2 linked regions of the Homo sapiens genome follow. The gene in region 1 interacts genetically with each later gene. Each region holds a gene or a part of one and is shown on either strand. Other genes may lie near its edges.

The links.
Region 2: changes in NPR1 (region 1) and HCRTR1 together harm fitness more than expected from each alone (negative genetic interaction), as found in Homo sapiens cells (one large-scale study listed by BioGRID).

The regions. Positions count from the first base shown.
Region 1 is NC_000001.11:153,691,281-153,694,492, reverse strand, and holds the end of NPR1 (atrial natriuretic peptide receptor 1 precursor), read right to left. Parts: intron 1,388-3,212; coding exon 1,296-1,387; intron 1,142-1,295; coding exon 1,079-1,141; 3' UTR 501-1,078; downstream 1-500. UniProt on the Homo sapiens protein: Receptor for the atrial natriuretic peptide NPPA/ANP and the brain natriuretic peptide NPPB/BNP which are potent vasoactive hormones playing a key role in cardiovascular homeostasis.
Region 2 is NC_000001.11:31,616,314-31,620,777, reverse strand, and holds the start of HCRTR1 (orexin/Hypocretin receptor type 1), read right to left. Parts: upstream 3,090-4,464; 5' UTR 2,897-3,089; intron 2,754-2,896; exon of another isoform or gene 2,652-2,753; intron 2,310-2,651; exon of another isoform or gene 2,023-2,309; 5' UTR 1,962-2,022; exon of another isoform or gene 1,728-1,961; 5' UTR 1,586-1,727; coding exon 1,387-1,585; intron 1,247-1,386; coding exon 1,068-1,246; intron 1-1,067. UniProt on the Homo sapiens protein: Moderately selective excitatory receptor for orexin-A and, with a lower affinity, for orexin-B neuropeptide. Triggers an increase in cytoplasmic Ca(2+) levels in response to orexin-A binding.

The sequences.
Region 1 (3,212 bases):
GGCACCACTGCACTCCAGCCTGGGCGAAGGAGCGAGACTCCGTCTCAAAAAAAAAAAAAAAAAAAGAGATTCTCCTGCCTCAGTCTCCTGAGTAGCTGGGATTACAGGCGCGTGCCACCATACCCAGCTAATTTTTGTATTTTTAGTAGAGACTGGGTTTCACCATGTTGGCCAGGCTGGTTTTGAACTCTTGACCTCAGGTGATCCATCCACCTCAGCCTCCCAAAGTGCTGGGATTACAGGCATGAGCCCCTGTGCCCGGCCAATAATAATAATTCTTAAGGATGTAAATGGGTCCTTAAACCAGTTTCAGCACTGCTGGGCAATTCATAGGCTGTTACTACTCTCAGAGCCTGCATTCCCAGCTTAAGAATCGAGAGTCTTTTTTTTTTACTTTTCCTTCTAGACCCTTGTAGAACAAGAAGTGAGTCTTATTTGAAGTAGAGAGTGGAGAACTGACTGTTTTCTGGCAACCCTCTCTCCCTCAAGAAGAGACACTGTCACTGGAATAAAGATTTTAATTGTCTCTGCTCATGGTAGAAGCAAGGCATACAGGCCCCCAACCCTTCTGCGCCACCCCTCTTCTCCCCTGTGCACTGTGTCTACTGCTGGGTGGAGGGGGTCGGGGGAGCAGGTATTGTGGGCCAGCCCCAGATGTGGGCTCCCCTGCCCTCTCTTCACCTAGTCTCTTTTCATGTTCCCCTTCAGGTGACTCTTTCTCCTCCCAGTAAGTCACAGGGTAGCAAGGCTGAGGGAGGAGAGCATGGGGAGGGGAGGGGATCAGGAATCCACAGCCCAGCCCGGCCTGAGTCCAGGTGGAGAGCAGGTGCGTGTGCCTGTGTGAGTGTCCCTGTGCATGGCCGTGGGCTTGGCTCAGCCTGTAAGCTCTGAGATCCCCCCATGCCAGTCCCCTCTCAGAGGTCCTATCTGGTGTCTTCACTGGGGTCAGCACACCTGAGCTATTCAAATTACTTCCATCCTTTGGCGATGGGGCTGCTGTGGGTGAGGCTGAGGCCTGGCACCTCTGTTGCTTCTGGCACAGGGTAGGGAGGTGTGGAGGGATAGGAGAGGAGGCAGGTCAGCCTCGGGTGCTACTCCCCCTCTCCCCAAGGAGCCAGTAGGTCCGAACCTTGCCTTTGCCCTGGAGGGAAAAAAGAGGATGGGCTGGGGAGTGGCACATGCCCTTTCCCCAGTCAGATGAGAGCCTTAGGGATGGGAGTGGCATTGGCTGCTTGAGAAGGGTAACTCCCTCTAGGACCCCAAAAGGTGGGGAGGGCAGAGGCTTCTCCCTCTACCTTCATTTCTACATCCCCTCGAAGCTCCAGCTCGAAACCACCAAACTCCTCCAGGACAGCCTTGGTCTCAGAAGACAAGTGGATCTTCAGGGCTGGGTAGGACAGGGGAGAAGGGAAGGTGAGCAATGTGAGAGAGGAGAGCAGGAAAGTAGAGGCAAAAGAGACCAGGGACTGTGGGGGTGGACAGGTGGACAGGTACCCTCTCTCCCTCTTTTGGGCCAGGAAGCCCTCTAGCTCAGAGGGGCCCCACCCCCTGAATGTAGTGCGTGACCACATTAGCCTCTCATTTAGAACTCTGGAGCTGTGTAATCCAATACAGTAGCCACTAATCACATGTGCCTGTTTCAACTTAAATTAATTTAAACTAAATACAGTTAAAAATTCAGGCTGGGTGCTGTGGCTCACACCTGTAATCCCAGCACTTTGGGAGGCTGAGGCAGGAGGATCACTTGAGGCCAGGAGTTCGAGACCATCCTGGCCAATATGGCGAAACCCCGTCTCTACTAAAAATACAAAAATTAGCTGTGTGTGGTGGCACTCACCTGTAATTCCAGCTACTTGGGAGGCTGAGGCAGGAGAATCGCTTGAACCTGGGAGGCGGAGGTTGCAGTGAGCCGAGATTGCACCACTGCACTCCATCCAGGCTGGGCGACAGAGCGAAACTCTGTCTCCAAAAAAAAAAAAAAAAATCAGGGCCTCAGTTGCACCCGTCACATTTCCAGTGATAAGTAGCCATATGTGCCTAGAGGCTACTGTATTGGACAGCACAGAATACAGAACATTTTCATGACTATGGAACATCCTGTTGGACAGCACTCTCTGGAGTGTCACCCGGCTCTACACAGCATGGTGGTTAGGAGCTGGCACTTTGGATCCTGCACTGCCTCAGTATGAACCTCAGCTTGGATACTTGCTTAGGTATGTAAAATAAATTCTCTCTGCTTCATTTTCCTAATCTGTAAAATGCTGATAGTGTCAGTACCCATCTCAAAACCTTGTTGTGAGGATTAAATTTAACATCCATAAAGTATTCAAACGGAATGTGCTACCTAGGAAGCACTATGTAAATTGTTGCTTTCATGATTTCATGCTATACCCTCATTTTGTGGCCGAGGAACTGAGGCCCAGGGTGATCTGCCCAAGTGGCTGAGGAGGTCAGTGATGGAGTGGGGCCCAATATTGCCACACCCTCTCTTTGACCACTGTCTGAACTCATGTCCCTACTTCTGGGGTTTGCATCAATCACAGTGGCCTTGTTGTGTTTAACAGTTTCTTTCTTTTCTTTTCTTTCTTTCTCTCTTTTTTTTTTTTGAGACAGAGTCTCGCTCTGTTGCCCAGGGGTGCAGTCTCGGCTCACTGCAACATCCACCTCCTGGGTTCAAGTGATTTTCATGTCTCAGCCTCCTGAGTAGCTGGGATTACGGGCACGTGCCACCACGCCCAGCTAATTTTTTGTATTTTTAGTAGAGACAGGAGGTTCACCATGTTGGCCAGGCTAGTCTCCAACTCCTGGCCTCAAGTGATCTGCCCACCTCGGCCTCCCAAAGTGCTGGGATTACAAGCACCCCCAGCGCCCAGAATGTTGAACAATTTCTGGGAATGTGCTCCTTGAGGACTGGACCCTCAACAAGGGGCTGTACTCTGACAGCCCCCAAAATAGTGCCCAGGGAATATTTGCCGAACTAGATCCCTCTGGGCTCCCAGGACTGGCTCCCAAGCAGCCTTTCTTTCACCATAAGGTTTAGATGGGGTCCACATGAATTTCTCAGCTAACTCTGGATCTGGGCCATGTTACTATCCCAGGGCCTGGCACTCAGTAGTCACTCAATAAATGTTTACTGCATTGAATTGTGTCGAATACAGCAGAAGGATAGAAGATAAACAGGAGGCAAGAGCAAGGGGCGGGTAGGAGTAAGA
Region 2 (4,464 bases), about 120 Mb from region 1:
GAGGAGGCTGACGGCAGGTGCAGGGCAGTGCAAATCCTGACTCCACCACTTACTGGCTGTGTAAATGTGGGCAAGTCACTCACCCTCTCTGAGCCTCGTCTACAGAATGGGAATATACCATCTACCTGGCAAGATTCTTGTGCGAATAAGTGAAATCATGTACAAACAATGTCCAGCTTTAGACCTGGCACATGGTAGGTGCACCCCTCCGGTGAATAATAACTTGCACCTACGTAACTTACTATGTGCTGGGCACTGTTCTCATCATCCTCATGACAATCCCACAAAGCGCTCTTGCCCCCCTGTTACAGATGAGGAAACTGAGGCACAGAATTCCCTCATCCATCTGTCTTTATGCTCAGGGTCACCAGAGTTAACCAGTTGAGTGGGGAGCCTCAAAATAGTGGGAAATCCAAGAGGCATTTATCTCTGCCATGGAATGCCATCCCTTCCCCAGGCTGTTAGGAAAAAGCCCTCATTCTGGGAGGCAGAGATGAGTCTGGGTCAGAGGTGTGTGGGCATTGCCTCTAGGGGTGCCCCCTGCCCTCTGGGGTGCAGGAAGTGGATCACAGGATACAAACTGAGAGAAGCCTTCCTTCCACCCCACTAACCCCATCCGGACATCCTGGTTTCCACCACTGGGGTCTTTCCTGGCCAGTGCAGGAGGGAGAGGAGACGGCTGTTTCCATCAGGCCCCTCACGTCTGCCCCTTTGGGATTGGGGAGCAGGCCTAGGGTGTCGTGTATGTGTCACTGTGGGCTGTTGCCTCTCTCCTTGACTGTGTGCCTGTGTACCTGGAGGTGACTATACATGTCCACACGTGTCTATGTATATGTCTGTGGCTGTGACCAGGAGGGGATCTCTGTGAGTGTGTGGGGTTGTGTCTGTGTCCTCGAGTGTCTGATCTGGTGGCTTGCCCTTGCTAGCAGCAGAGGATGACACTTCAGGGGTCATGAGCCACTGACCTGTCTGAAAGGCAAGTCTGGGGGTCACTGAGACCTATGCAAGGCCGTGGGTTTTTTACAGGCGTGACAAGGAGTGGTGAGGGGTGCCTGGGCAGAGCTCACCTGTAGATAGGGGATGACCTTGCAGAGGGCATGGCCGAACAGCCAGGACTCAGTGATGTCCACCAGCAGGCTGGCCGGCAGGCAGATAGCAGTCACCAGAACGTCAGCCAGGGACAGGTTGACAATGAAGTAGTTGGTGACTGTCCTCATGTGGTGGTTCCGCCACACGGCCAGGCAGACTGCAGGGTGCAGCGAGGTGAAGCTGGTGGCAGAGCCACACCCATCCTAGTTCTGCCTAATCAGCGAGCCCTCCTCCCACACAACCCCCTTCAATCCCCAGGGAAAGCCGGCAGCACTGCCGGGCAAGCCCTGGACCTACCCAGCGTGTTGCCCACCAGGGCCACGACGAACACAGCCACATAGGCTGCGATGAGGACCCACTCATACTGTTTTGGGTACAGATAATCGCGCCACAGATAGCGGAGAAACTCATCTTCATAGTCTGGAGGCACAGGGGACGGCTCTCTGCTGCCAGGGGGGACCCCCATCTGGGCCCCTGGGGTGGCTGAGGGCTCCATGAGCTCAGGAGCCGCTGCAGCAGAGGGGCATCCTAGGCTCTACAGAGGGAGAGGAGGGAGCTTGGGCCAGCCCTCAGCCCACTCCCTTCAGGGTGCCTGGAGGCTTGCACCCAGGTCTTTTCGGGTCTCAGCCTCAAACTTCCTGAAGGGAGGAAGGAAAGGAGGGAGTGGGAAAAGAGAGAAGGAAGGAAACATTAGGGATTGTGCCAGGCGCTTTGCGTATAAGTTCCCTCTTAATTCTCACAGTCATGAAATTGGTGGAGGAAGACAGACCTGGGTTGCATCCCAATTCCACACCAGTTGCCTTGGGTAGCTTACCTGGCCTCTTTCAGCCTTGGTTTCCCCATCTGTCTAATGGGGTGACAGCCCTACATACCTTACAGGACCACGATGAGGAGTAATGAGCTCCGATGCGTGCCAAGTGCTTCACCAAGAACCTGGTACGAGAAGGTAGTTTCGGGGACGTTTCCGGTTACCATTATTAGGGTACCCTGCTTTGCAGATGAGACCGAAGCTCAGAGAGATTGAGTCTCTTGCTCAAGGTCACAAAGCTCTTAAGCCAGGTCTGTTCGAACCCACCAAACACCGTAGATTTGGGAGGAGAAGCCATCCCGATTGCAAATATTTCTTGAGCCAGTTCAGAGGCTTTAACTTTGGGTTGGGAAAACGGGCCAAGGGAGGTGTTAGAGACCCAAGCCCCACCCGCCATACCTGCCAGACCCTCCGGTGGGCACTCGCGGACACGCACACATACAACACACACACAGTGGGGGTGGTGCGCGGAGGGACTGACGACCCCTTGCGAGCAAGGGGAGCATCCAGGCCCCCTAAGAGGCCCCTTTGGGTCCCCAGGGCCGCGACGCTCCCCGACGGCCGCCAGGAGCCGCTGTTCCGGCGCGCGGGTCGCTCTCCATTCATAAATCCAGCCAGCCCAGCTCCCCGCCCCTCCCCTCCTCCCGCACTCAGCCCCTCCTTCCCCCGGCTGGGCTAGGACGACCCCGGCCAGGTGCCGGAGGGTTGCGGATCCCTGGAGACCCCTGGGGAAGGGGAGGGGACGCCTTCATACCCCACTGAACGCCGGCAGGCCCGCTCCGTCCGCGGGACCTTCCTGCACCTCGGGGGCTGGCGGGGCTCCGGGAAGGCGCGGGGGAGCGAGGGCACTCGGAGCCTGCCTAGAGGAGAGCAGCGCTGGCCGAGGAGCCAGTCTCCCAGCACCCAGGTTACCCCCCGAGACTCTTGGCTCCTCCCATCCCTCGCCGCGGGTCCTTTGGAACCCCCATCCCAGGCCTGGGGGTCCCCCACACCCCGCACCTGTTGGCTCCGGGACCCGGGCGTTCTCGGCTGCTGGTCCCCGGACCTGGCACCGGGGACTTCGCCTTCCTGCGAGGAAGGCCGAGCCTCTAGGGGCCGGGACTGCAGGAGGGGGCCGGGGCAGCCCCCTCCCTAGGCTGCGCTGCCTCGGCTCGCGGGGCTCAGCACGATCCGCGGCAACTGCGCGGGCTGTGGCTCGGCGCGGGCTCCGCCGGGCTGCGCGCTGCGGGGAGGGAGGGCCGGCGGGAGGGGCAGGGCGGGGTGGGAGCCCCCAGACGGTCTTGGCTCCCTGTCTTCCAGCCCCGAGACCCGCAGGGCGGAGGGAGACGCTCGTTCCTTCTAGCCTCCCACTTCAAGCTTCCATCCCACCTCCATTCATGCGTCCATCCGTTCATTCATTCCATCCTCATTCATTCAACATTTATGCCCCTGGCCACCCCGCATTCTGGGCGCACTTAGTGTGTGCCGGCGGGCCTGGCAGCTTCAGAGGGCCACAGTGCAGAGGTGGAGCCCAGCCCCGCCTCTCCTTGCTGCCTCACCTAACTGAGGAGGAGGATGGCACAGGTGGGTCACAGGGGTGAGACAGAGAGGATGCCTGCACCGCCTCCAGCCTAGCTCCGGATGCTGCTGTAACAGCTAGCTCCCAACGATGCCAGAGAAGCCTGTTCTCCCATCTCCCAGCCCCCCATCCTATCTGCCCCCAGTTTCTCTTTTTGTTATACCTACTGTTCCCCCCAAAAATCAAGGACGCCGGTGGGGACAGAAGTGGGGGTTCGTTAATTCCACAAATAACGATTTATTAAGCTGTGTGCTAGGCAGTGAGTTCTAATAATACAGCTACCGTTTGGATAATGCATATGATGCCTGCTCTCATTTAATCTTCATATCAACCTGGTGAGGTGGTCGTTATTGTCCCCATTTTACAGATAAGGACACTGGATCCACATGGCGCAATGACTTGCCCAAGGTCGCACAGCAGAGGCAGAGCTGGGCTTTGAGCCTCTGCCCCTCTCAGGCCTCTAGCCTCTCTCACCAGACACAGTCTCCCTCCCCTGCAAAATCTCTCTGGCTGGTGGGGGAGGCAGGTGCACACCCAGGCAATTAACCTGTGGTGTGAGGAGGGTGTGAGGGCCCTGGGGGCTGTGGGGCACAGGAGGACAGACCGACTCAGCCAGGGCATGAGAACAGGCTTCCTGGAGCAGGGACATCTCCATGGAGACCTGAAGAATAAGAAGGTAGCCTGCAAGGGGGATTGTGGTATTCGAGGAGAGGCATTCAAGGTCAGGAAACAGCAGGTGCAAAGGTTTGAAGGTTGGGGATTCTGGAAATCACAGGTAGGTGAAGGGTGACTGCCTGAGCATCATGCAGTCACCTTGGCCATCCCCTAGCTCAGCATAGGACATTCCTAACATGTCACCCTCTGAAACTCACACTGTTTCCCTCCTGGGAGGTGACTCCTGGGATGCAACCACCATCTTTCCCATTGCAGCCAAAGCCCTTTTCAAAGGCTCTGAAGATGCGCCGTTAGGCATAGGAGGTGTGGGAGAGGAACTGGAGCAGCATAAGGG